Linked DNA regions of Homo sapiens. The protein of the gene in region 5 purifies or fractionates together with the protein of the main gene of each other region. This does not show direct contact. Each region holds a gene or a part of one and is shown on either strand. Other genes may lie near its edges.

What was found.
Region 1: the proteins of LILRB4 (region 5) and HIP1R purify together in Homo sapiens (co-immunoprecipitation; one large-scale study listed by IntAct). This does not show direct contact.
Region 2: the proteins of LILRB4 (region 5) and PCDHGB1 purify together in Homo sapiens (co-immunoprecipitation; one large-scale study listed by IntAct). This does not show direct contact.
Region 3: the proteins of LILRB4 (region 5) and PLTP purify together in Homo sapiens (co-immunoprecipitation; one large-scale study listed by IntAct). This does not show direct contact.
Region 4: the proteins of LILRB4 (region 5) and DAGLB purify together in Homo sapiens (co-immunoprecipitation; one large-scale study listed by IntAct). This does not show direct contact.
Region 6: the proteins of LILRB4 (region 5) and ATP2B3 purify together in Homo sapiens (affinity purification with mass spectrometry; 2 studies listed by BioGRID and IntAct, with this or other methods). This does not show direct contact.
Region 7: the proteins of LILRB4 (region 5) and PCDH1 purify together in Homo sapiens (affinity purification with mass spectrometry; one large-scale study listed by BioGRID and IntAct). This does not show direct contact.

Annotation. Positions count from the first base shown.
Region 1 is NC_000012.12:122,845,457-122,848,956, reverse strand, and holds part of HIP1R (huntingtin-interacting protein 1-related protein), read right to left. Parts: intron 927-3,500; coding exon 863-926; intron 492-862; coding exon 349-491; intron 162-348; coding exon 105-161; intron 1-104. UniProt on the Homo sapiens protein: Component of clathrin-coated pits and vesicles, that may link the endocytic machinery to the actin cytoskeleton. Binds 3-phosphoinositides (via ENTH domain).
Region 2 is NC_000005.10:141,348,794-141,352,898, reverse strand, and holds the start of PCDHGB1 (protocadherin gamma-B1 isoform 1 precursor), read right to left. Parts: upstream 2,801-4,105; 5' UTR 2,639-2,800; coding exon 230-2,638; coding exon of another isoform or gene 206-229; intron 1-205. UniProt on the Homo sapiens protein: Potential calcium-dependent cell-adhesion protein. May be involved in the establishment and maintenance of specific neuronal connections in the brain.
Region 3 is NC_000020.11:45,905,656-45,909,155, reverse strand, and holds part of PLTP (phospholipid transfer protein isoform a precursor), read left to right. Parts: intron 1-1,251; coding exon 1,252-1,315; intron 1,316-1,400; coding exon 1,401-1,464; intron 1,465-2,796; coding exon 2,797-2,888; intron 2,889-3,500. UniProt on the Homo sapiens protein: Mediates the transfer of phospholipids and free cholesterol from triglyceride-rich lipoproteins (low density lipoproteins or LDL and very low density lipoproteins or VLDL) into high-density lipoproteins (HDL) as well as the exchange of phospholipids between triglyceride-rich lipoproteins themselves.
Region 4 is NC_000007.14:6,413,455-6,416,954, forward strand, and holds part of DAGLB (diacylglycerol lipase-beta), read right to left. Parts: intron 3,468-3,500; coding exon 3,387-3,467; intron 3,301-3,386; coding exon 3,173-3,300; intron 1-3,172.
Region 5 is NC_000019.10:54,665,985-54,669,218, forward strand, and holds the end of LILRB4 (leukocyte immunoglobulin-like receptor subfamily B member 4 isoform 1 precursor), read left to right. Parts: intron 1-255; coding exon 256-331; intron 332-414; coding exon 415-452; coding exon of another isoform or gene 453-460; exon of another isoform or gene 461-472; intron 473-709; coding exon of another isoform or gene 710-712; coding exon 713-765; intron 766-1,650; coding exon 1,651-1,809; intron 1,810-1,888; coding exon 1,889-2,035; 3' UTR 2,036-2,734; downstream 2,735-3,234. UniProt on the Homo sapiens protein: Inhibitory receptor involved in the down-regulation of the immune response and the development of immune tolerance. Receptor for FN1. Receptor for apolipoprotein APOE. Receptor for ALCAM/CD166.
Region 6 is NC_000023.11:153,552,142-153,555,641, reverse strand, and holds part of ATP2B3 (plasma membrane calcium-transporting ATPase 3), read right to left. Parts: intron 2,608-3,500; coding exon 2,373-2,607; intron 1-2,372. UniProt on the Homo sapiens protein: ATP-driven Ca(2+) ion pump involved in the maintenance of basal intracellular Ca(2+) levels at the presynaptic terminals. Uses ATP as an energy source to transport cytosolic Ca(2+) ions across the plasma membrane to the extracellular compartment.
Region 7 is NC_000005.10:141,857,911-141,861,410, reverse strand, and holds part of PCDH1 (protocadherin-1 isoform 2 precursor), read left to right. Parts: intron 1-3,500. UniProt on the Homo sapiens protein: May be involved in cell-cell interaction processes and in cell adhesion.

The DNA.
Region 1 (3,500 bases), on a different chromosome or scaffold from region 5:
CAGCCACCCGCAGGGAACTGCCCACAGGGAGCCACCCTTCGCTCAGCCCCACACGCTCAGGAAAGCCCCGAATGCCAGGCAGGACCTAGAATGGCTGGACCTACCCACAGGTCTCCAATCTCCCGGATGTTGCTGCGGTACCGCTGGCAGTCATGCAGCACCTGCAGCGCAGGGAATACGGGAGTGGGGGAGTGTCCAGGACCGTGTGGCAGGGCCCTGAGACACGCACTCCCCACCCGAGGCGGGAGGAACAGCCCGGAGCTACGGGGACAGGAACAGGGCCAGAGCCCGCATGTCCGCGGGACAGTGCCCCAGCTCCGGGGAGCAGAGGCAGCAGCTGCTACTCACATTGGGGTGCCCGTCTCGAAGGACCTTGTGGAGGACGTGGCAGAACTTCCAGCTGAGAATGGAGCTGCTGGGCAGCGGCAGCCCAATGGCGTAGGACCAGAAGGTGAAAGCCCCCTTCTCGTGGTGTGTGCCCAGAATGATGCCTGCAATGTCAAGGCCAAGTGTGGAAGCAGAGACTGGAGCACGGGGGCTCAGCAAACCCGGCTGAGAGAGGCCAGGGCCGCCGGAAGAGGGCCGGCCCCCAATCACGTGCCCATCAACCCCGGGTCACCAGAGCTCCAGTGTCCAGCCAAGGGGACAGGAGTTAGGGCAAGACAAGGAAATCATTGGGCCCAATGGGGGCGTTTTTGTGATGAGACTGAGATGGGAAGGAGCCAAGCTGCACAGGACCCTCCTCCCCGGGCTCAGTGAGGGAACTTGTGACCCCGGCACAGCTGACCGCAGGCCACCTGCAGCACTACGCTGCTCCCACATCCACACCCAACTCCTGGGTCCAAGAGCCGGCCAAGGATACGCCGGGCGTGCTTCTCCTTCACGGGGGCCTCCTGGGTGTTGATGGCTTTGCTGATGCTGATGGCCTGTGAGGGACAAAGGAGCAGTGTTTAGAGCCCCAGGCAGCCACCCCAGGAGACACCACCCCAAGGGGGAGAAGCACAATACTGAACAGGATTCTGCCTGGGTTCAAGGCCAGTGGAGCGATGGGGGAGACAGGAATCCCCTCAACCTAAGCTTCTGAAGGACTTCCCTGTGCCTGATCGGTGCAGCTGGAACTACAGTGAACACCAAGAGCTCCAGGAGTCAGGGGACAAGGACCAAAGCTGGGCTATGGCTCCGGGAGGCCATCCTGCCCAAAACCTGCACGACTTGACTCTCCTGGCAGATGTGGTGCCCTGAGCCCCAGGTCATGGCCCAGTGTGGTGTCCTCCGGCCCCATCTCCCCTTGGGGAAAAGCAGCTGAGACTGGAGCCCCCGGCTGGGGCCCACCTGGCCTTTGCGGCACCCCATGAAGGGTGCACATCACATTGTCCCCACTCTCCTGGGAGGCATTCCCAGGAAACTTAGGCAAAGCCCAGGGCCTGTGGCCCACTGCCCCATAGGCTGCCCCTCTCCTGGGTGGGGCCTCACCCTGTCAAACTGTGTCAAGCTCCTGCTGCCACCTGCAGCCCAGCCAGGGGCGGAGGAAGGCAGGAGTGGGGTCTGCAGCTGTCACCCGGAGCTGCGCAAGTGGCACCTTCACACTTGACCAAGGCCAGAATCTCAGCATCCCTCCCGCTCCACCTATGGCAGTCTCACCCCTCCCCCCCCGCCCCGGCTACTGCCTCCTTTTCCGAGTAGGCTTCCTGGACGTGACTGTGCTCTCGAGGAGGGCTCACGGCGGTACCATCACTACAACCCGGCCCTGGCTCCGTGGGGCATGGGGTATTTCTCATGCAGGGAACAGGTCTGCTAAACCTCTGTCCCCCACCACCAATGTTTGTGACCTGAGAAGAGCTGTCCAGGCCATGGGCGGGAGGGACAGGGCCTCGACAGATGCAGACACTGAGATGGGACACGCAGCCCCCAGCCTCAGCCAGGGCAGCTGGGCTCCTGAGCCACAGGCTGGCCTAAGCCAGGCAGGCCTTGAAGGGCAGGGAGCCGGCTTGCAGGACAGTGCAGCGCTCCTGCGCCTTCTCCCCAGACACCACTGCACTCTCCCACCCAACACCGGAGCAGAGGACATCCAATTAGGGTCTACTGTGGAATTTCCTCTGTGAGAAAAGCCAGCCCGGGAAGCTGGGGGGCCCTACCTGGTGGGACCTCAGATGGGAGCTAGGGGACTGCGGGGCTGGGCCAGGCAGCCTCTGGGCCGCCCCCGGCCCCTAGCACGATGCTGACCCCCTTTCACACACAGGGCCCATTGTACTGGACCCTCCCAGGCAGGTGTCCTGGGGCTGCCCTGAGCCCTGCTCCCTGTAGTCGGGGAGGAGCTGCGGTCCCATCTCAAGGAACCACGACCTGAGGAAATGCACAGAGGCTCTGGTGGGCCTGATCCTGAGGGCTGCCCAGCCAGTGGCCCCCAGGCCTCAGCTCCTTCCTTGAACAAACTCGTATCCACCAACTGTGAGAAGCCATGGCTGAGAGTGTCATGCCCCCAGAGGCAGAATATTGCTCACGACAGCAGCTATGATGATAAGGATCCTGAGTGCCCAGCCCCAGCCAGGCATGGGCAACTCGCCTCCCAGCAACAGCCCAGGGAAGTGGTGACTAACCCATTTTCCTGGTGAGGAAACTGAGGCACAGAAGGCTTATATACTTGTCTGTACAGCTAATAAGGATAAAGGCAGTGTTCAAAGCCAGGTCTGTCTGATTCCACAACCTGTGTCCTTAGTGACTCTGAACAGCCCCCAGGCAGTTCCTCCCGTGGGGAGGGGCTCCCAGGGCAGGAGGCAGGGGCTGTGACTTTCCCCAGCTCACTGGCAAGCAGCTGTCCTGTCACAAGCCAGGCGTGTCCGTCTCCGGGGTGTGTAACCCCATCCCCAGCTGCCGACACCTGAGCTGCCACCTGGTTCGGAAGATTCCTGGCAAGAAGGGTGGAGGCGAAGTGACTGGTGCAGACCTGGCACCAGAGAGGCTGTAGACACAGAGATGCGGGGGTTTCTCCTGACACTGAGGAAACCCCGGGATGGGGCTGAGATAGGGACCCTAGAAGCAGAGAACACATTCTGGGGGAATGGGCTGCCCTCTCCTCTTTGCGAGGAAAGACACAGTGAGGCCAAGGTGCAGCCACCCGTGTCCCCAGGCCCTAGGCTCCAGATGCCCACTCAGCAGAGCTCCAGCTCCCCGCACCCGGCACCCTCACACCCTCCTGCAGCCGCCCTGTTGAAATCTGCACCTTCTGGATGGATGGTCTCTGAGGGCCGGGCACCCTCAGACAGTGGAGTGTTTCCTTATTTATCACCCTCTCCCCTCACCCAGCAGTCAGCAACACGAGGGGAAGCAGATCGGCCTATAGGTGCTGCTGAACCCCCAGCTCCTCAACAGTGCCTGGCATGCAAATGACTTTCATGGCAGGAGGGAGGCCCCAGGAATGCAGTGTGACGGGGCATGCCTTGGGCACATGGCATGGTCTCCTGTGCGCCTGGGCCTCAGTGCTGCCTGCTCCCCGCGCTGGC
Region 2 (4,105 bases), on a different chromosome or scaffold from region 5:
CTCCTGTCTCAGCTTCCTGAGTAACTGGGACTACAGGCGCGTGCCACCACACCCAACTAATTTTTGTAATTTTAGTAGACCGGGTTTTACCATCTTGGCTATGCTGGTCTCAAACTCCTGACCTCAAGTGATCCACCTGCCTCAGCCTGGTTAAGTGCTGGGATTACAGGCTTGAGCCACCGCGCCCGGCCGCCATATATAAAATTTAACTAGATTTGCAGAAACTCACGTGCGAAGACAAAGAAGGGTCATAAGCGATTTTGTGATCTTCATTACTGGCACATACAACCATAGAAGGATCATCACACAGCAGATCCTGAGGGGGAGCCATTTCCGGTGTCAGGTTGAGAGAATTAAACTCTGTCTTTGCAGAATGAGAGGCAATACATAGATTGTAGGAATAGGGCAAAGTCCCCTCGCTGTGGTTGGGAGGAACCCCGGGCCCAGACTTGGAGCAGAGACCGGTTTGAAAGCAGCCCTCAGTGTCGAGGCTGGAGGAACGTCGCAGGCGCAGGGCGATCGCTAGAATCACCGCGAGGAGAAAGAGCACTGAGATCAAGGCCAAGGCCACAACCAGGTAAAACTGCAGTTCCGTCTGGGGGTCAGAGGGCTCAGGGCGGTCGCTGAGGTCTGGCAATACCTCTTGCAGGCTATCCGCGAAGATTAGGTGCAGCGTGGCGGTGGCGGAGAGTGGCGGCTGTCCTCCATCACGCACAGCGACCAGCAGGCGCTGGCGGGCCGCGTCCCTGTCGCCCAAGGCACGCGCTGTGCGCACCTCACCCGTGCGCAACCCCAGGCTGAAGAGCCCGGGCTCGCTGGCCTGCAGCACGTGGTAGGACAGCCAAGCGTTGTGTCCTGAGTCTGCGTCCACCGCCACCACCTTGGTCACCAGGTAGCCGGGCTCTGCGGCGCGTGGCACCATATCGAAGAGGGCGGAGCCATCAGGCCCCAGCGCGGGGTACAGCACCCGTGGCGCATTGTCATTGAGGTCGCCCACCAACACGCGCAGGCTCACGTTGGCGCTGAGCGCGGGGGAGCCCTGGTCCCTGGCCTGCAGTGTGAGCTCGAAGGCGCGCAGCTGCTCGTGGTCGAAGGCGCGCTGCGCGAACACCACCCCGCTCTGCGGGCTCACGGACACGTAGGACAACAGCTCCCGCGGCTCCAGGTCACTGGCCAGAATAGAGTAGGAGACTCTGCCGTTGGGTCCCAAATCCGGGTCGGAGGCGCTTACTTGTGCAATGGAGGCGCCAGGTGGGTTGTTCTCAGACACGTGGACCACATAGGAGGCCTGATGGAAAACAGGTGCATTGTCGTTGATGTCGGAGATGTGCAGGGTGATGCTTGTCCTGGAGGAAAGGGCTGGTTTGCCCTTGTCGGTGGCTATGATTGTGACGTTGTAGTCTGCTGTCTGCTCCCGGTTTAGGGCTCCAGCAATCACCAGCTTGTAATAATTCTTCGAGGTGGATTCTAATTTGAAAGGAACTTCTTCCTGAGTATAGCATGTCACCATGCCATTTTGCCCAGAATCCTTGTCTCGCACTTTTATGAGGGCTATTACAGTTCCAAGGTCTGAATCCTCTGGAATCTGGTTAGAGAAGGACATGAATGTCACCTCTGGGGCATTGTCATTCTCGTCAACAATTTCTATTTGAACATTACAGTGAGCTGTGTGTACTCCTCCATCCTTAGCTTCCACACTCAACACATATCTACTTGTCTCTTCAAAATCCAATGTGCCATTGGTTGTGATGTCGCCAGTATTTGGATTGAGATTGAAGAGGCTGGTACTTATTGGGGAATTGAGGAAGGCATAGGTGATCTCTGCATTAATGCCCTCATCCTGGTCTGTGGCCATCACCCGCAGCACGGAGGTTCCCCACGGTACGTTTTCTTGGAGGCTAACCCTGTATACCTCCTGGCTAAACACGGGAGCATTATCATTGGCATCCGTAACTCGGATCCAGATATGGGTGGTGCCGCTTAGAGGCGGGTCCCCGCCATCCATGGCAGTCAGGATTAAGCGATGAGAGCTCTGATGTTCCCTGTCTAGAGGTTTTTCCAGCAGTAATACCGGATATTTACTTCCATCAGGACTTTCCTTCGTTGACAGAGAGAAGTATTGATTGGGGTTGATGGTGTATAACTTCAGTGAATTGCCTTCCACATCTGCATCTTGAGCAGAATCCAGAGAGAATTTTACCCCGGGTAAGGCTGACTCACAAATTTCTAAGTCAATGCCTTTTGCAACGAAACGTGGTGCATTGTCATTAATATCTTGGATTACAACAACCACGTGGAAAACATTCATTGGGTTTTCAGCGACCGTTTCGAATTCTAGTGCACACTCAAGTTTCCTTCCGCAAATCTTCTCTCGATCTATCCTACCGTTCACTAACAAATCCCCGCTCTCCAAACTAACGTTGAAATAATCCTCTGCACTAACCCGCAGTTTTCGAGTTGGCAACTCCCGGACACTGAGCCCCAGATCCTTGGCAAGTTTCCCCACCCGTGAGCCGTTGGCTAGCTCCTCTGGAATCGTGTATCGGATCTGCTGGGAGATGGCCCCGCAGAACAAAGACAGCAGGAAGGGAAACAGTACCTGACTTTTCATCATTTCGGCTTCTCTGGCTCTCTGCATTTCAGGAACTCTCCGCGGAGCTTCTTTCCTCTGGGATGTTTTTCAAAAAGAAATGGCAGCACCCTGGACTTCTGTGATTTGAGCTTAGGACTTATTAGTTAGGCGCTCGAGGGTGAACAGGAGCAGCGTCTGTGCTCAGTGCACCGGACAAAGCAGGAAGGCACCCTGCCTGACGCTCCTGCAGAATTGAGAAGCCTTCACTTCCTTTTGGTCGACAGCGGCGCCCAGAGGTTGTCTTGGAAAACTGCACAGGGCCCAGCTTTTTATCCTCAAAGCGCAACCTCTTGAATCTATGTACCCTGTCTTTAATTTGCTGGAGGGAAACACATACTCACATTTTCCCCTTTACATTTCAGTTTTCTAGTTTGTCATCATCAGATAAGGGCCTTCATCATTTCGTATTCTTTTTTCATTTAAAAAATTCACAAGGTACACTGCCATTTTTTTCAGTTTTGGGGGTAAAAAAAAATCTTCAGTGATTTCACTATATTTATAAACTCTGGCATGACTGCTGTATCCAAATAAGTGAATTGATAATTTTTATTTATATTTTTAGTTGACTAAAATACCTACCTTTCTGTAAATTCATTGGAATAAGCTCCCTTATCTAGTATTTTAAATCTCTCCATATATATGTTATCAATTCAGTAATACTTTTCAAAAATAGTTTTTGCAAAAAAGAGGAAATCACAGCCTTACTATTATGTTATTTCTCTTCTTTATAAAATATAGATAATCTTTCCAGTTAAGTAGGACAAAGTCTGATATTTTGTTAAAAGGGCCAATTTAGTGTTGGGGTACACATACATGCTTTTATGAAGTGGAATCTCATATAATGTACATTTGTTTTATGAAACCAGTGCTTCTTTTTTATATGAATGTATATTAAATACTCTAGGCTGGGTGCAGTGACCTGTGATCCCAGCACTTTGGGAGGCCAAGGTGGGAAGAACACATGAGGTCAGGAGTTTGAGACTAGCCTGTCCAACATGGTGCAAGCCATCTCTACTAAAAAAAATAAAAATTATCCAGGCATGGTGGCGGGTACCTGTAACGCCAGCTACTCGGGAGGTTGAGGCAGCAGAATCACTTAACTCAGGAGGCAGAGGTTGCAGTGAGTTGAGATCATGCCACTGAAGTCCATCCTGGGTGACAGAGCAAGACTCTGTCTCAAAAACATTCTCTATAATGCCAATTCTCAGCTCCAGCCGACTTATACCATTAATGAGCAAAACGAGTTTGACTTGACCACTGGTAAATATTGGAGAGGTATTCAGAGTTCTTAGACACCCAATTTTGGAACTTATTCTGTAGTTCCAGGCTTAGAACCAGTCTTGGTTCAAAGCAAATCCCTTTATTTCAAATGCATTACCAAATGAGATCCAACTCAACAATTTATTCTACTATTTTGCAGTGCTCACCCATACTCATACTCTATTCGAAACAGCCTATTATCTGTTTTCTTAA
Region 3 (3,500 bases), on a different chromosome or scaffold from region 5:
CCATCTCTACTAAAAATACAAAAATTAGCTGGGCGTGGTGGCACGTGCCTGTAGTCCCAGCTACGTGGGAGGCTGAGGCAGGAGAATCGCTTGAACCCGGGAGGCGGAGGTTGCAGTGAGCTGAGATCGTGCCACTGCACTCCAGCCTGGTGACAGAGCAAGATTCCATCTCAAAAAAAAAAAAAAAAAAAAATTTAGAACAGCACCTGGCATATGATAAATGTATATTTAAGTGCTGGCCACTTAGATAAGAGTAACTGTGAGGACTATCTGATATGCACATTTGGCCATGTACTGGATTCTCAATAATTGGTATCTCTAAATAATAATAACAAAAATAATAATTTTTTTTTTGAGAGGGAGTCTCACTGTGTCACCCAGCCTGGAGTGCAGTGGCGCCATCTCGGTTTACTGCAACCTCCACCTCCTGGGTTCAAACGATTCTCCTGCCTCAGCCTCCCAAGTAGCTGGGACTACAGGCATGCACCACCATGCCCAACTACTTTTTTTGTATTTTTAGTAGAGACAGGGTTTCGCCATATTGGCCACGCTGGTCTCAAACTCCTGATCTCAGGTGGTCTGTCCGCCTCGGCCTACCAAAGTGCTGGGATTACAGGCCTGAGCAACTGTGCCCGGCCTATTTTTTTATTTTTGCTGCTGAGAAGGGGATATTGTTCTTGTTCTGGAAGAGGATGGGGGAGAGAAGATGATGGATTATAACCTGGTGTTGGTACACTGTCAGTATTATTTATTCATCAAACAAAGTGTATGCCAGTCCCTGAGGATGCAGGAAGGAGCTCAGAGCCTATCTGGAGCAAAAAACATTTGATATCAGGGCCTGGAGAGAAGGACTAAGAAAATGCTTTGGGGATTCAGAGGAGGGGAATCTGGGAAGACTGCCTGGAAGAGGAAGCATCTGAGCTCAGATGGGAAAATACAGAGTAGGAATGCAGAGGGCGGAAGGGAGGGCATCAGTAAGCCGATGGATGTGGGGATGCTCAGAGTGGGTTTGAGGCAATGTGGGTGGATTCATTTGACTGATGGGACCAGAGAGTAGGTCAGGAGGTCTTGAGAATTAGACTGGAGAGGGAATTTGGGCCTGGTTCTTGGAAAACCTACGTGGAGGAGCTGTTATTCAGGCTGAAGCTGAGGACTCCTACTGCCACTATTTCCCTAGTCACTGATTTCTCCTGGACCTGGACTGGGGTGGAGGCAGGTTCTGGGCTCATCCGGCCTCTCCTCTCCTCACAGGAAGGTGTATGATTTTCTCTCCACGTTCATCACCTCAGGGATGCGCTTCCTCCTCAACCAGCAGGTGTGGGCAGCGACAGGTCGCAGGGTGGCAAGGGTGGGCATGCTCTCACTTTGAGAAGGCCCTGACTCTGGCTCCCACCTCGCAGATCTGCCCTGTCCTCTACCACGCAGGGACGGTCCTGCTCAACTCCCTCCTGGACACCGTGCCTGGTGAGTTGGTGGCGGGTGAGTCTGGGTGTGCAGCTGTCATGCAGCACCTCAGAGCAGGCCCCTTCCGAGCCCTGCTGTTGAACAGTCCTGGGTTCAAATGTGGCCCCTGGAGCTGACTTGTTGTGCGATTTTGGGTGAAGTGCTCATTTCTGTCTGGGCAAAGTGCTTGTTTCCTCACTTGGCTGGCAGTGCCTCCTCCTGGGGTTGCTGTGAGGATTATCTGAGAGAATAGTTGTCAAGGTCCTCAATATGTGCATGCTGATCACTGGCATCCCATTTGTCTTCATCACCTAGCATCTAATAGGTGCTCAATTAACATGAATTCCCTTTTTCTTTTTCTTTCTTTTTTTTTTTTTTTTGCACGGAGTCTTACAGTCTCACTCTGTTGCCAGGCTGGAGTCCAGTGGCGCGATCTCAGCTCACTGCAATCTCCACCTCCCGGGTTCAAGCAATTCTCCTGCCTCAGCATCTCGAGTAGCTGGGACTACAGGCGTGCACCACCATGCCCAACTAGTTTTTTGTGTTTTAGTAGAGACGGGGTTTCACCATGTTGGCCGGGATGGTCTCGATCTCCTGACCTCCTGATCTGCCCACCTTGGCCTCCCAAAGTGCTGGGATTATAGGCATGAGCCACTGTGCCTGGCCATGAATTCCCTTTTTCTAAGCCATGACCTCTGTCTACTGTGGGGCAAAGGTATTTTCCCATCACACCTAACACACAGGCATGGGAAGCGAAGGAGGAGGTAGGAGAAACCAAGGGAAAGGAACCTCATGCCATCTTTTTTTTTTTTTTTTTTTTTTGAGATGGAGTCTCGCTCTGTCACCCAGGCTGGAGTGCAGTGGTGCAATCCTGGCTCCCTGCAACCTCCACCTCCCAGGATCAAGCGATTCTCCTGCCTCAGCCTCCTGAGTAGCTGGGATTACAGGCGCCCACCACCATGCCCAACTAATTTTTGTATTTTTAGTAGAGACGGGGTTTCACCGTGGTGGACCAGGCTGGTCTCGAACACCTGACCTCAGGTGATCCGCCCGCCTTGACCTCCCTAAGTGCTGGGATTACAGGTGTGAGCCACCATGCGCGGCCCCCCCATGCCATCTTGTTTAGTTATTTTTTTGAAACCTCTATAGTGGTAGTAATAATAATAACTAACATTAATGAGCACCTAACTACACACCAGGCCCTAAGTGCTTTCCACATAAAACTAATTTGACCCTCATGACAACCCTGTGAAGGATGTATCCTCATTTTATGGGTGGGCCTCTGAGCCTGGAGAGGTTAAGCACCTTATCCCACATCACACAGCCGTGAGTGACTTGAGCCCCTTCCTGCAGTGCGCAGTTCTGTGGACGAGCTTGTTGGCATTGACTATTCCCTCATGAAGGATCCTGTGGCTTCCACCAGCAACCTGGACATGGACTTCCGGGTGAGCTGCTTGGGCTGGTGTATGACCTCTGACTTCCTAACAAGACCTCTTTCTCTGCTAAGTTGCAAGATTTTACTTCTTAAAGCACAGCTCTGATGAGGCCACTCCCATTACTGAGAATGCTATGGCTCCCTGTTACTACAGAATTAGGTTCAGCCTCCTGGGTCTGGCATTTGAGCCCCTGTTAATCTTACCTGGCCCCACCTTTTATATCTCATCCTGTTTCTTTGCAGCTGCTCTTTCCCAAATTGGACCCTGGCTTCCCACCTCAGGGCCTTTGCTCATGCACGGCCTTTCCCCAACTCCCCCGAAGGAGCTGGACATAAATTTCTATACAAATAATCTCATTTCATTCTCTCACAACCCTGTGAGTCAGGTACTAACATCATCCTAATTTTAGGAATGTGGAGACTTACTCATAGAGGTGACGTCACTTGCCCAAGGCCACATAGCCAGTGTGTAGCCACTACCTTTGGTCTCCCAGAGGAGTATAGCAGTTTCAGAGTGCAGACTCGGGAGCTAGAATCAGTCGGGTGCAGTGGCTCATGCCTGTAATCCCAATACTTTGGGAGGCCCAGGCGAGAGGATCGCTTGAGCCCAGGAGTTTGAGAC
Region 4 (3,500 bases), on a different chromosome or scaffold from region 5:
CCCGTCTCTACTAAAAATACAAAAAATTAGCCAGGCGTGGTGGTGGGCGCCTGTAGTCCCAGCTACTCAGGAGGCTGAGGTAGGAGAATGGCATGAACCCGGGAGGCGGAGCTGGCAGTGAACTGAGATCGCGCCACTGCACTCCAGCCTGGGCGACAGAGCGAGACTCCATCTCAAAAGAAAAAAAAAAAAAAAAGATGCCCCAGCAAAAATGAAGGGGCAGAGGCAACAGGCGATTCACTGCGGCAGAACCTGCACCGGCAGAGGCTGGAGCCTCCAAACACCCATCCACAGAACTGCCTTCAGCTCCCAACAACGAGTCACATAATAGTGCGTCCCGCACAGCTGGGAGAAGGAGGAGGACTGTGTGTGCCACTGCGGGGTCATCTCAGGACATGCGGTGAAAGTGAACAGCCACGACCAGAGACAGAAGAGCAGGGAAAAGGTGCAGGCTTTCATCAACAGGAGGAGAGGAACACAGACACGCTTCCTTCCAGCCATGGACATAATGGAAACACCAGTCAAAACCACCACATTCTACCTCTGGGGTGACAGAAAGGACTTTTTTGTTTTTGAGATGGAGTCTCGCTCTGTCTCCCAGGCTGGAGTGCAGCGGCACAATCTCAGCTCACTGCAACCTCCATCTCCCAGGTTCACGCCATTCTCCTGCCTCAGCCTCCCAAGCAGCTGGGACTACAGGCGCCCACCACCACGCCCAGCTAATTTTTTGTATTTTTAGTAGAGATAGGGTTTCACCGTGTTAGCCAGGATGGTCTTGATCTCCTGACCTCATGATCTGCCGGCCTTGGCCTCCCAAAGTGCTGGGATTACAGGTGTGAGCCACCACACCCGGCCAATTTTTTTTTTTTTTCTTTTGAGACGGAGTGTAGCTCTGTCACCCAGACTGGAGTGCAGTGGCACGATCTCGGCTCACGGCAACCTCTTCATCCTGGGTTCAGGCAATCCTACTGCCTCAGCCTCCCGGGTAGCTGGGACCACAGGCACACGTCACCACGTCCAGCTAATTTTTGTAAGGAACCGGGTCTATGTTGCCCAGGCTGGTCTCGATCTCCTGGGCTCAAGTGATCCTCCTGCCTCAGCCTCCCAAAGCGCTGGGGTTACAGGTGTGACCCAACATGCCCAGCCTCCTGATGTTTAAGTATCACTATACACTACAGTTACATTTTCTCTTTGGTGTAACAAAAGCCTTTCCTACCTCTTTCCAATGAAAAGGCCTGGAAATTATGACCAGCCCTGTGGTAATGAGAACTACCAGTGCCCCGATTTCAGTTCAGAAATACCATTTCCTGCTAAAAGGAACCAATATTCCTTGGAGAAACGGTTGATTCCAGATATGGACGATGGAAAAAAAAAATACTTGCTCATTTCAAGCCCAAAACTTGAGAATATTCTTGAGAAAGCAAGAAAATGAGGCCAGGCACAGTGCTCAACACCTTTAATCCTAGCACTTTGGGAGGGTGAGGCAGGAGGATCACTTGAGCCCAGGAGTTCAAGACCAGCCTGGGCAACATAGCAAGACCCTGTTCCTTACAAAAATTAGCTGGATGTGGTGGTGTGCGCCTATGGTCCCAGCTACTTGGGAGGCTGAGGCCGGAAGATCACCTGAGCACAGGAGGCAGAGGCTACAGCAAGCCATGACTGTGCTGCTGCACTCCAGCTGGGGAGACTGAGTGACACTCTGTGTCAATTAAAAAAAAAAAAAAGACAGCAAGAAAACAGACGACTGAAATTTAAGTTTTAAAAAATTAATGTCTGCCTCTGTAGACTGCTAGGCAACAATTCATTATTCTGAACACTTCTTTATTGAGGGAAAGATTTAAGCACTTATACATTCTCCTGTTTTTTCCTGTGTGAACTATATGTCAAAGAAACCAAGTGTGCGAAGAAAAGCTCTTTTTGTTCTTTACGTACATACTTTTTAATCATCCCAAAGGGCCGGGATTACAGGCATGAGCCACCACGCCTGGCCTTTATTTCATTTTAATGAAATAAAGTGGTATAATTTTCCTTTATAATCATGGCAAAAGGTTACACAGAACAGTCAGTATGCTGGAATCAGCAAAAAAAAATATAAACTTTTCAGCCAGGCGTGGTGGCTCATGCCTGTAATCCCACCATTTTGGGAGGCCAAGGTGGCGGATCATGAGGTCAGAAGACAGGAGATCGAGACCATCCTGGCTAACACGGTGAAACCCGTCTCTACTAAAAAAATACAAAAAATTAGCCGGGTGTGGTGGCGGGCGCCTGTAGTCCCAGCTACTCGGGAGGCTGAGGCAGGAGAATCGCTTGAAGCTGGGAGACGGAGGTTGCAGTGAGCCGAGATCACGCCACTGCACTCCAGCCTGGGCGACAGAGCAAGACTCCGTCTCAAAAAAAAAAAAAAAAGTAATTTTCAAACTCATAAAAATGTCTTTAAACATGTGCATTATGCATGTGTCCCCACCCAGGGCATATGCCCCCCGAGAGGGCGGAGGGAGTGCTCAGCATACTACGGGCTCTGGGCGATGTGCCTACCAGGCGCATGGATGTCAACAACCGGACCCCTCTGCCAGGGCTGTGAGAATGGGGGAGGTTGTGCTTGCTTGTGGGGAGGGAGGGTATGAGAGATCCCTACAATCTGCTGCTCAGTTTTGCTGTCAGCCTAAAACTGCTCTAAAAAATAAAGTCTGTTTGAAAAAAGACTCTTAGAATTAAATCATTGAGGAAATTACAGGTATGGTCACATAGGTCTAAGAAAGGCTAGACAGACTTTCTTCTGTGAAATAGCGCTTCAAAACACAAACCTCAGCTGGGTGCGGTGGCTCACGCCTGTAATCCCTGCACTTTGGGAGGCCGAGGCGGGCAGATCACTTGAGGTCAGGAGATCAAGACCAGCCTGGCCAACATGGTGAAACCCCACCACTACTAAAAATACAAAAATTAGCCGGCATGCTGGCGGGTGTCTGTAGTCCCAGCAACTCGGGAGGCTGAGGCAGAAGAACCGCCTGAACCTGGGAGGTGGAGCTTGCAGTGAGCCGAGATCACGCCACTGCACTCCAGCCTGGGCGACAGAGCAAGACTTCATCTCAGGAAAATAAAAGAAAAAAAAGATGAGTCTTGACCACATGACTTGTAAGTAGCAAGCTGTTAGAGCAGGAAAACAAAGGCTCACCTCCACAGCCCCCGGGGTGGGGAGAAGGCGTAGCACCTGACCTGCGGGTAGGCGGCTCTGAGCATGGTGGCCAGCAGGGCGGCCGCCCCGCCCCCGAGGCTGTGGCCCACTATGACCAGCCGGTACTCCTAGAGGACAGACAGCAGAATGAGGTGAAGGGTAAAAACAACAGCTCCAAAGAGGACAAGGAAAGAAACGTTAACTAAGATCTCACAGGAGCAATGCTGAAGGCTTGGCTCAAAATCCCGTCGTTGATGAGTCGTTGGTAAACGTATCTGGCAGCTTGAGAAATACCCTAAAAACACAGACAAAGAAGGTGGCCGTTAAT
Region 5 (3,234 bases):
CAGCCAAAGGGACTCCAGATAGGAGAGGTCATCTTAGAAACTCTGCTCCAGAAATTCCCAGTGAGAAAATCTAGAAAGAAGAAAATGAATGAGGGAGTAATGGAAGTGCTTTATTCTTTCGGTTTTTCTAAACTTAGAAAGTATTTAAAACATCCTTGCAAGTGTATTTTCAGGTTTCCTTTCCTCTTGACTTGCATGTGCAAGGCAGGTGGTTCTAACGTTCCCAGAGCTGAGACTCTGTCCATCTTCCCCCAGCCCAGAGACAGGCTGATTTCCAACGTCCTCCAGGGGCTGCCGAGCCAGAGCCCAAGGACGGGGGCCTACAGAGGAGGTAATTCTGCCCAAAGACCTCAGACTCCCACCCATCCCAACAGCCACCTCACTGTCCCCTTACACTCCCGTATCCTCCCCCAGGTCCAGCCCAGCTGCTGACGTCCAGGGAGAAAACTTCTGTGAGTGAGAGGCAGAGAAGGTGCACCTGGGGTGGAGCTGGGGGTCCCAAAATTTCAATAGCAATGGGGGCAGGAGCACAGGCTAGGATTGGTCAGGGACTCAGGGAGAAGTGGTCTGAACCCACATTGTGGGACCTCGGGGACATCACAGCCCCTCCCTGCGTTGCAGTGGCACTAATGGGAACAGGGCAGGGACCAGCAGGAATGAGAGGTCCCAGGGAACCTTCCCAGGAGATGAACCCCTTGCTCTACCCCAGCAGGTGCTGCCGTGAAGAACACACAGCCTGAGGACGGGGTGGAAATGGACACTCGGGTGAGAACCCGCCCCTGTCCCCGGCACCAAAGGCCTCCTGGTGCCAGATCTAATCCTGCAGGACTTCTCTGTCCTCCTTCCCCCGGCTCTCAGCATCGTCACGGTGGACCCCTCCTTGTCCAGCACGCTGCCTCCTGCCTGCTGGGACCTCACTCTCTCCTGCTGTCCTGGGACCTCATGGGCCTCCTCCCGGGTCCCCTTCCTGCTCCTCATCCTCTGTTTGGCCATCTGGTTGTTAGAGAGCTCCCCAGGCCTCAGGAGGATGACGAATAAATGAACCACTCCAGTCCCCTGGGCTCCCCTTCATTCATTCATCTAGTGAGTGTTCCCAGGGAGCTCACTGTGGATGGGGCTCCCCATGGGAGCTGCAGACACAGCAGGGAGCAAAGCCGCCCCCGCCTCCTGAGCTCACCTCGTGGTGGGAGACAAAATGCAAATAAATGCATCGTGTCCAGGAGTGCAACGTGCTGTAAGGAACATAAACCAGGTAAAGGGCAGAGAGTGTGGGGCAGTGGGGCCAGTCTGAATGGAAAGGGAGGGCTGTCTGCTCAGCTGTCATCTGAGAAGCCTGGACGGAGAGGGCCACGTGATCCTCTAATGGACGAGCCCCTGCAGGCAGAGGAAACAGCCGTGCAAAGGCCCCGAGGCAGCAGCGAGCTCTTGCAGGAAGGCCGCGTGAGGCTGCAGCCAAATGGGCAAGGTCAGAGTGAGGAGCAGAGACCAGAACCACAGGGAGGGAGCGGCCAGACCCTCCACGGCCTTAGGGCATCCCTGAGATTCCGTCAGGAAAGGGATGTAATCGGATCACCCTGGGAACAGTGGGGAAAATTGACTCCAGGGAGTCAGGAGGATTCAAGGACACCCCCCACCACTGTCTCTCTCCAGCAGAGCCCACACGATGAAGACCCCCAGGCAGTGACGTATGCCAAGGTGAAACACTCCAGACCTAGGAGAGAAATGGCCTCTCCTCCCTCCCCACTGTCTGGGGAATTCCTGGACACAAAGGACAGACAGGCAGAAGAGGACAGACAGATGGACACTGAGGTGAGTCCTTTCCTCTCCAGGCCCCCAGGCCTCCCCCACCCCCACCACGTTCCTTCCCTCTCACTCTCCCCCGCTGCAGGCTGCTGCATCTGAAGCCCCCCAGGATGTGACCTACGCCCGGCTGCACAGCTTTACCCTCAGACAGAAGGCAACTGAGCCTCCTCCATCCCAGGAAGGGGCCTCTCCAGCTGAGCCCAGTGTCTATGCCACTCTGGCCATCCACTAATCCAGGGGGGACCCAGACCCCACAAGCCATGGAGACTCAGGACCCCAGAAGGCATGGAAGCTGCCTCCAGTAGACATCACTGAACCCCAGCCAGCCCAGACCCCTGACACAGACCACTAGAAGATTCCGGGAACGTTGGGAGTCACCTGATTCTGCAAAGATAAATAATATCCCTGCATTATCAAAATAAAGTAGCAGACCTCTCAATTCACAATGAGTTAACTGATAAAACAAAACAGAAGTCAGACAATGTTTTAAATTGAATGATCATGTAAATATTACACATCAAACCAATGACATGGGAAAATGGGAGCTTCTAATGAGGACAAACAAAAAATAGAGAAAAATTAATAAAGTCAAAATGTTTATTCTTGAAAACATTAATGATACATGAATCTTGGCCACAATGAGAAAAATAAAAATGAAAAAAGAGCAGGCATCCATTTCCATACAGGAACAAAATAGGAGGCAGCACTACAGACCCTACACACAGCTTTACAGAGGTGAAAGAAAACTGTCAGCAATTCTATGCTGACATAACAGAAAATGTAGATGAGATAGATGAAATACGAAAAATTACAGTTTACTTAATGAACATAAGGATAAATAGAAAAACTGAATCATCATACATAAACATATATAAAATGCATTGATCCTGTAATCAAAAATGTTCCCACAAAGTAAATGCCACTTCAGCAAGGTTTGTTGGTGGTTTTTTCAAACTCTTATGCACTCATGAAACACACAGACACACACACACACAAACTTGCATAAATTTTCCCTGAGAATATTTTGTATATATTTACACAAATACATTTGATCAGACTAGGAACAAGTTGATACCAAAACCTGAAAAGGAAACTACAGAATGGGAAAGTCATAGAAGATCTCTCACAGAAATATAAATCCCTTAACAAATATTAACAAGTAAGATTCATGTCTCTATAAAATAGACAGTATATCATGACCACACTGGTTTTTTGTTATCCTTTGATTTTGTTTATGAAAAGCAAGGATAGCTTAATTTTCAAAAACTCAATCAATGTAATTCAGTATTTTAACAAAAGGAATGAAAAATTATCATCTCAATAGACAAAGCTTTTGTCTGAGCACCTTTTCATATAGCTGCTGACCATTTGTATGTCTTCTTTTGAGAAATGCCTGTTCAGCTACTTTGCCCATGTTTCAAGTAGTTTTTG
Region 6 (3,500 bases), on a different chromosome or scaffold from region 5:
GGGGTTGAGAGCGGGAAGCCAGGAGACTGGCCGGGAGGTGGTGGCATTGTCCCAGTGGTGGGGGGACAGGGAAGACAGTTCCCAAATGAAGAGGTATGTGGCTCTTCAGGCTCGGGGACAGAGAGACAGGGTCAGGCAGCTGATGCCACTGAGGTAGACGGGCAGGGGGAGAGGAGAAGAGGAGCCAGGTTCAGAGTTTGGGAACCTGAATGAGGAGGTCAAGCCTAGGCAGTGGGGCTTGTGAGCACCGTCGGGTAAGTGTAGAAGCCTAGGTGTGGCCGAGCCGCCAGGCCTGGGGAGCCTGCGGCGGTGGGGAGTAGACACGCAGGAGTGGGAGCCAGGGGTAGGGCAGCCGGGAGACACCAGGGGAGGACATTGACCTGGGAGTCCCTGAATCCTGGCGCCCCCTGAGGCCATGGGCAGGGGGGCTGTGATCTTTGCCAGGGAGACAGCTGGGGGCCCCACTCTAAGCTGTGACAGGGTGATCCAATGGTTCCTGCAGCATATACCACTAAGTGGCCTCACTGCCAGCCTCGGGGACACTTCGTACTCTCTGAGGATCTTGGGGTGCTGGATAACAAGATCACGAGCCACAAGAAGACAATTCTCCTTTGAGCCAGCGAATGCCTGTCCCTGAAAAGTCTGGAAGCCACCCCTCTGCTGCCACCAAGTGGCCGTGACGAGCCTGAAAACCAGCAGCTGCGAACCCAGGCCTCCTCCCTCCTCAGGCCCAGTGTGTGTAGCCCAGTTCCTTCCCCATGGCCCCAAAGGGCCAGGCCAGGCTGTCCTTCCTCGCCTGCTCAGCCCTGCTCCCTGCCTTCTCCCCAAGGCCCCACAGCACAGCAGCCAGCCAGGTGTCTGGAGAAGTTGCCAGTGCCCCCGGCCGGCCCAGCTCCAGCATCAATACCACCCCAGCCACAGGCTTCCTATGGCTCCCCAGGGCCCAGCCTCACGGGCCCTCCTCTGGCTGCAGCCGTGCCGCATCTCCAAGCACCCTGGCGGTTTCAGTGAGGCCCTTGTGTCCTACTGCCTGTTGCCGGCACCCAGGACTTCGCTGGGCCTTCTGTGCGTCCTCCTCAGCCACCACCAGGCTGGCCAGTCTTTGTGGGGGTCTGCCCAGCCTCCGCAGCCTGGCCCTGTCACTGTGGTCTACCCCTTGGACTCTCTCTCAGCCACTCTTAAGCTGGAAAGGAGCTGTCCCTATTCCCCAGGCCCCTCTGGCAAGATTCCTTCCTCTGCTCTGTGCTTCAGTTGCTCCCTGGTCCAACAGAGGGACTCGATGGCTCCTGTCCCCAAGTGTGGCCTTGCTTCGCCTCACCAGCACCCTCTCCTTCTGCTCTCCCAGGCTCAGTGGGGCCCGGGACTCATGCCGCTGCCCGCCTTTGCGGGGCCCATTTCCCTCGCTGGACTTCTGTCCCCTGTCCTCCGCTACCACCCATTTTCTCCCAGGGCAAGCTCGAGGTGCTCCCTCTCTGGGCGCAGTGACCATGTTCTCCTCGGGGCACGGGGCTGCTCTGTTGACATGAGCCATGGCTGGCGTTTAGACGCACTGTCTTTGAATTGAGTGTTTTTGCTACATGATCCAATACATGAATGCCTGTCTCCCGAAGGAGAGCCCAGAAGCTTCTCCTCCCAGGTTGCACCTGCACCCCCAGGGTGGCTCCTACAAAGACAAGTTGTCAGGGTCACAGTGGCCCTGCTTGTGACACAGGTGGGTGCCATGCAGAGGCCCTGGGGAGACAGAGGGGCACCCCATGCCTTGCATTCTCCCTCCGGGGCCGGCCATCCTCCACACTCTCCAGGGTCTGGGATCTTTCAACAACAAAGTGACTTCCCAGTGTCAAGGCCATGGCATCTGCCACGCGGCCCTCGAGGTCCCCTCATCTGGACTCCCCTGGTGGCATCGTCCATATGGGGATATGCTTCTGGGCTCCCTTTCCCGCCAGGACCTTTGCTGTGAGCTCGCCACAGGACGTCCTGACCGTAGAGTAGCCCCAGCCAAACCCTCAACCAATAAACGCCCACCCTGTGCCCCAAACCTGTGTCCCCTCAGGCTTCAGCACCACCTCCAGTCCATCGGTCCTGGGTGGATCAGATCCCAAATGTCGACGGTCTCTCCGCCACTGCCACCTTCTCACCTGGTAGAAGGTGGAGCCTGAGCTGGGCCCATAGGTCAAGCGGGAAGGGCTTTCCAGCAGGCAGGACAGAGCCTTTGTGCGGGTGTCAGGGTGAGAGCACCCAGGACGGGGCTCAAGTGTACTACGGAGGGACCGCAGCAGCTGTGTGTGAAGGAAGGCCGCCCCTACCAGTCCGGACAAGCTCGGGCAGAGGGCACAGTTACCAGGGCAGCTCACAGAGAAGGTGGTGGCTACCTCGGGCCGCACAGGGTCCTCAATGCCCACGACAGCTATGCAGGTGAGGTCACCCACGACCTCATTCTCGTTGTCCCAGTCGGGCTCCTGGCCTGCAGAGAAGTCCCGGTAGGCGATGCAGATGGTGCGGAGGCCATCGCAAGCCATCGGCTCGATGATCTTCCTCACCATGTCGTCCCGGTCCCGAGGCCGAAAGCCCCGGAGTTCGCCATTGCTGTTCAAGATGTTGGTGCACCTAGGCAGGGGGTGGGCAGAGATGAGGTGGAGGTGGGGAGAGAACAACAAGGAACAGCGCTGGTCACACTGGATTGGGGGCTTAGTCAAGGACTGGGGTCCTTATCAGAGAGGAGTGCCCCGTGTGAGAACACAGACACACAGGGAGAAGGGCGTGTGACAACAGGCAGAGATTAGAGAGGGTCAGCTGCAAGCTGAGGAACGCGAGGACTGGCAGCCACCACCAGAAGCTGGAGGATGCAGGATGCATCCTCTCTGAGATGCTTTGGAGGCGCTTCGGCCCTGCCCACGCCCTGCTTTTGGACTTCCGGCCTCCAGAACTGGGGGAGAATCCATTTCTGTTGCTTGAGGGCACCAGGACGCTCATGCACTGCTGCAGGCTGAGAGACCGGGAGGGAGGCAGGAGCATGTGGCTCATGGCAGCTCCACCACAGACTTCATAGGGCAAGCGGGTGGAACCTGGGCAAAAACTGAAGTCTGTGGACAATCGCTATAACCACGTCCAGGCAGCCACAGCCTCAGTAGAGCGCTCATGACTCCAGGAGCTTCTCAAAAGGGACAGGACTTGGGAGGATTCAGGTGGGGAGAGGAGGGAGCAAAGGAGCCGAGGGTCACAGAGGCGGGCATGGTGGAAGAAGCCAGTGGGGCTGTGAGTGCCAGGTGCTGCCACTGCATGGGAGGCTGGTGACGAAGGAAATGATCATAACAGAAGCTGTGTGGACGGAGAGCCTCCTATGGATGTGGATTCACCCACGGAACCCTCACACCCCTCCCCAGAGATAAGTATTCTGTGATCTCCATGCCACCAGGGAAACTGAGGCATGGGAGTAAGGGGGAGTGAAGCTGGGCTGGGCCTTTTGTCCGCAGTGCCTCAGTGTCCCTCAGTGCCCACCA
Region 7 (3,500 bases), on a different chromosome or scaffold from region 5:
ACCCATCCATGGAGCCACACTGAATGTCTTCTCCCAACATTCAGATACAACCAAACCACACCACCTGTTGTCATCATCAACACACACAGGCCAAGTTTCCACTGAGTACTCAGCATGGTACTAGACCCTGATGAAAAAATGGCCATACTTGTACAAGACAGACAAGTGAACGATGAGGCAATTGAGTGTCTTGAGTCGAATGAGAAGTGCCCTACTAAAGCTTTTCCCAACTTATTCCATGAAACTACTTCTACTGCTACTGCTCACTTCCTTTTTTTTTTTTTTTTTTTTTTTTGAGATGGAGTTTTGCTCTTGTTGCCCAGGCTGGAGTGCAATGGCACGATCTCAGCTCACTGCAACCTCTGCCTCCCAGGTTCAAGCAATTCTCCTGCCTCAGCCTCCTGAGTAGCTGGGATTACAGGCATGTGCCACCACACCCAGCTAATTTTGTATTTTTAGTAGAGACAGGGTTTCTCCATGTTGGTCAGGCTGGTCTTGAGCTCCTGACCTCAGGCGATCTGCCCGCCGTGGCCTCCCAAAGTGCTGGGATTACAGGCATGAGCCACCATGCCCGGCACTCACTTCCATTTTTTGAGTCCTTACTAGGTGTGAGGTACCATGCTAAGCACTTTGTGTGAATTAGTTCAATCAGTGCTCATAACTCTTTATGATATGGGTCATTTTAATATTAATTTTGCAGAAGTGAAAACTAAATAGTGATGCAGCCAAATTCAAACACAAAGCAGGCGGGTCTCCTATTACCTATTATGCTATAAAAAAGGCGTTCTGTGGTGAAGTTAGTTTTGGTAGTAAGAAATTCATGATCACATTAGCCTATTAAAGGCTCTGCAGAGTCCTCCAAAAAAGGGGGAACCTGTTAGACTTCGTTTAACCTTTTTTTTTTTTTTTTTTGAGACAGGGTCTTGCTCTGTCACCCAGGCTGGAGTGCAGGGGCGCAATCTTGGCTCATTGCAACCTCTGCCACCTGGGCTCAAGCGATCCTCCTGTGTAGCTGGGACTACAGTCGTGCACCACCACACCTGGCTAATTTTTGTAATTTCTGTAGAGACAGGGTTTTGCCATGTTGCCCAGGCTGGTCTCAACTCCTGGGCTCAAGCGATCTGCCCACCTCAGCCTCCCAAAGTGCTTGGATGACAGGTGTGAGCTGCCGTGCCTGGCCCCAATTTTGTTTACCTCTTGAGTTTTCTGAATTTATTTCACCATATTGCCCCTCCCTTCCTTTGACGAGCACAGTATGGGAAAACTTGTACAAGACATGGAAATGGGCTTCTGGAAGGAGAAAGTCAGCTTGTCAATGATGAGCAGGATTAGGGCAGGAGGGTCCCCTGCCTCCTCACAGGGTCACCGTGTAAGCAAACTCCTGCGGCAGAAGTGAACCAAGTTGGAGGCAGGGAAAGGGCAGAAAAAGGAATATTCTGGCAAGAAGAGGGGCATAAGAGAAAGCTGAAAGATGAGACTGGAAGAACTGTAGGTTGTAGAGGACATAGGTGCCTTACCAAAAGTTCTTCAGAAGGAACTAGTCCCTGAAAGCTCATGAGTGTTTTAGATGAACTGAGTTTTAGAAAGAGCACTGGAATATATGGTGGGCTTAAAAGGGCATAGAGATGAAGGTACAGGACTGAACCTCTAAGAGTTGGACTATGATGGTGGCAATGGGGGTGATGGATGGATGGATTTGGCAAAGGTTAGGGAGAAAGGACCCACAGGATTCAAGGGATAATTGGATATGAGGTAGGGATAGGGAATGAGGGGAGAGCTACCAGGATTCTCAGGTAGACATCAGCCTTCTGAGTCTGGGTGATAGGATAGTGATGAGATCATTGCCCATACAGAAGCTAATTGAAGAAGCATTTGGTTTCAGACATGTTGAATCTTAAGGGCCAGTAGGCAGAGCCAACTGGAAATAATCAGCAAGTGTCTAGAGCTTCAGGACTCAAAGAGTTTGAGAGAGATTTTTTGATCTGGGCTTTTATAATTTGATAGTCATAAAATTAGAGGGAACATTAAGTGTTGGGTATAACCCAACCCTCCATTTTATGGAAAAGAATCATGGGAAAAGAGACCAAGCGACTTGCTTAGTAGGCAGGACCAAAGCCTTCAATTACCAGATATGGGTTCTGCAGGGAGGTGGGACTGCTGGCCAGTATCTTGAAAGAAAACTGGAAAGAGAAGCACCAACAACCATGTTGCCCTGTGCCTCCCAGACCCCTCCTGGACCCTAATCACCCCTACACCAGGTGGACTACACTCCTTTATAGCCTCCCGGCCCCAAACATCCATGTTAGTTTTGGGGACCTTATCAGTCATCACCCAGACCCTTCAGTGTTTTAGATCAATACAAGGATTCCAAGAACGGTCGCTTATTCCTGAAGATGAGGTGGGAGCCATCTTCAGGAATGGGGATAGTGGGGAGGCAGTTCTGGGCTACCTTCACAGCAGCTCCAAAACTCCTGTCCTGACAGCCTCTTCCACCCTAGCTGCCTTGAATGGGGCTATTAGGAGGGTAAGTCTACAAAGCCAGGGCCACCTCCCCTGGCCATCTTCATAACCTCCTATCCAGAGTTATAGAGTAAGACAAAGCACTGCCAAAGTCTTGGAGGATGGGAAGGAGCTTAGAGACTCATCAGCAGGGCCCTGGGCTTAGCTGTTTTCACCCCTGGCCTCCAGGGACCCTGAGTCTGCACCCTCCACAACTCCTAATTTCTGGTTGGCAGGAAAATCTGTGGCAGTCCCAAGTGGGTATTTGGGTGGCTGGCTGGTTGTGCCAAGTGCCAAGTTGAGATTGCCAGGTTCCAGGGCTGATCGTTAACCTGTGGCAGGCATACAGGGCTGCTGGCTGGGAGCAGCCTGTCACGGTTCCACTCCCCCGACCCCCAGTCCCCAGTCCAAGCCTCCAAGTCTGGCTCCTCATGCCAGCAGCCCTCCCAGAAGCTCCTTCCTATTTCCTGGAAGGAGTCTCCCTTTGAGACCAGCTTTCCTAATCCCTAATGGGTGCCATGCCCTCTCCCCATGTCCAGGCTCCTGGCAGAGCCCTACCCTCTCCAGTGAATATTCTATTTCCTGATCGGGAGGACTGGGGAGTTTCCATTGTTCTGCTTTGTCCCCTTCCCCCAGGTGCCCTGGTTTGTTATCAGGCTCCTCCCTTTTTTTCCACTCCCAGGCCTCTCTGGAGGGGAGTGAAGTGGGGATGGGGGGCTGAGTGGGAGGGGCGACAGCAGGGAGTCTTCAGACTGCTGCAACATCACAAACCAGGGATGAGGAACACAGGATAAGAAAAGAAAGGTTGTTCCCTCATTTGGAAGGAGGCAGTGGCAAGAGCAGTGAGACAGGTGAGGAGCTGGAGTTTGGAGGGTGCTGTTTGGAAATGAGGGAACTAACTGTTGTGGTATTGGTGAGCTGTTTGGGAGTTAGGAGTCTGCTTCTTTTAGGAAGCTGTTCTAGAAACTGCAGGCTATGCTGGTGTTTAGAGGCTGAGCTGG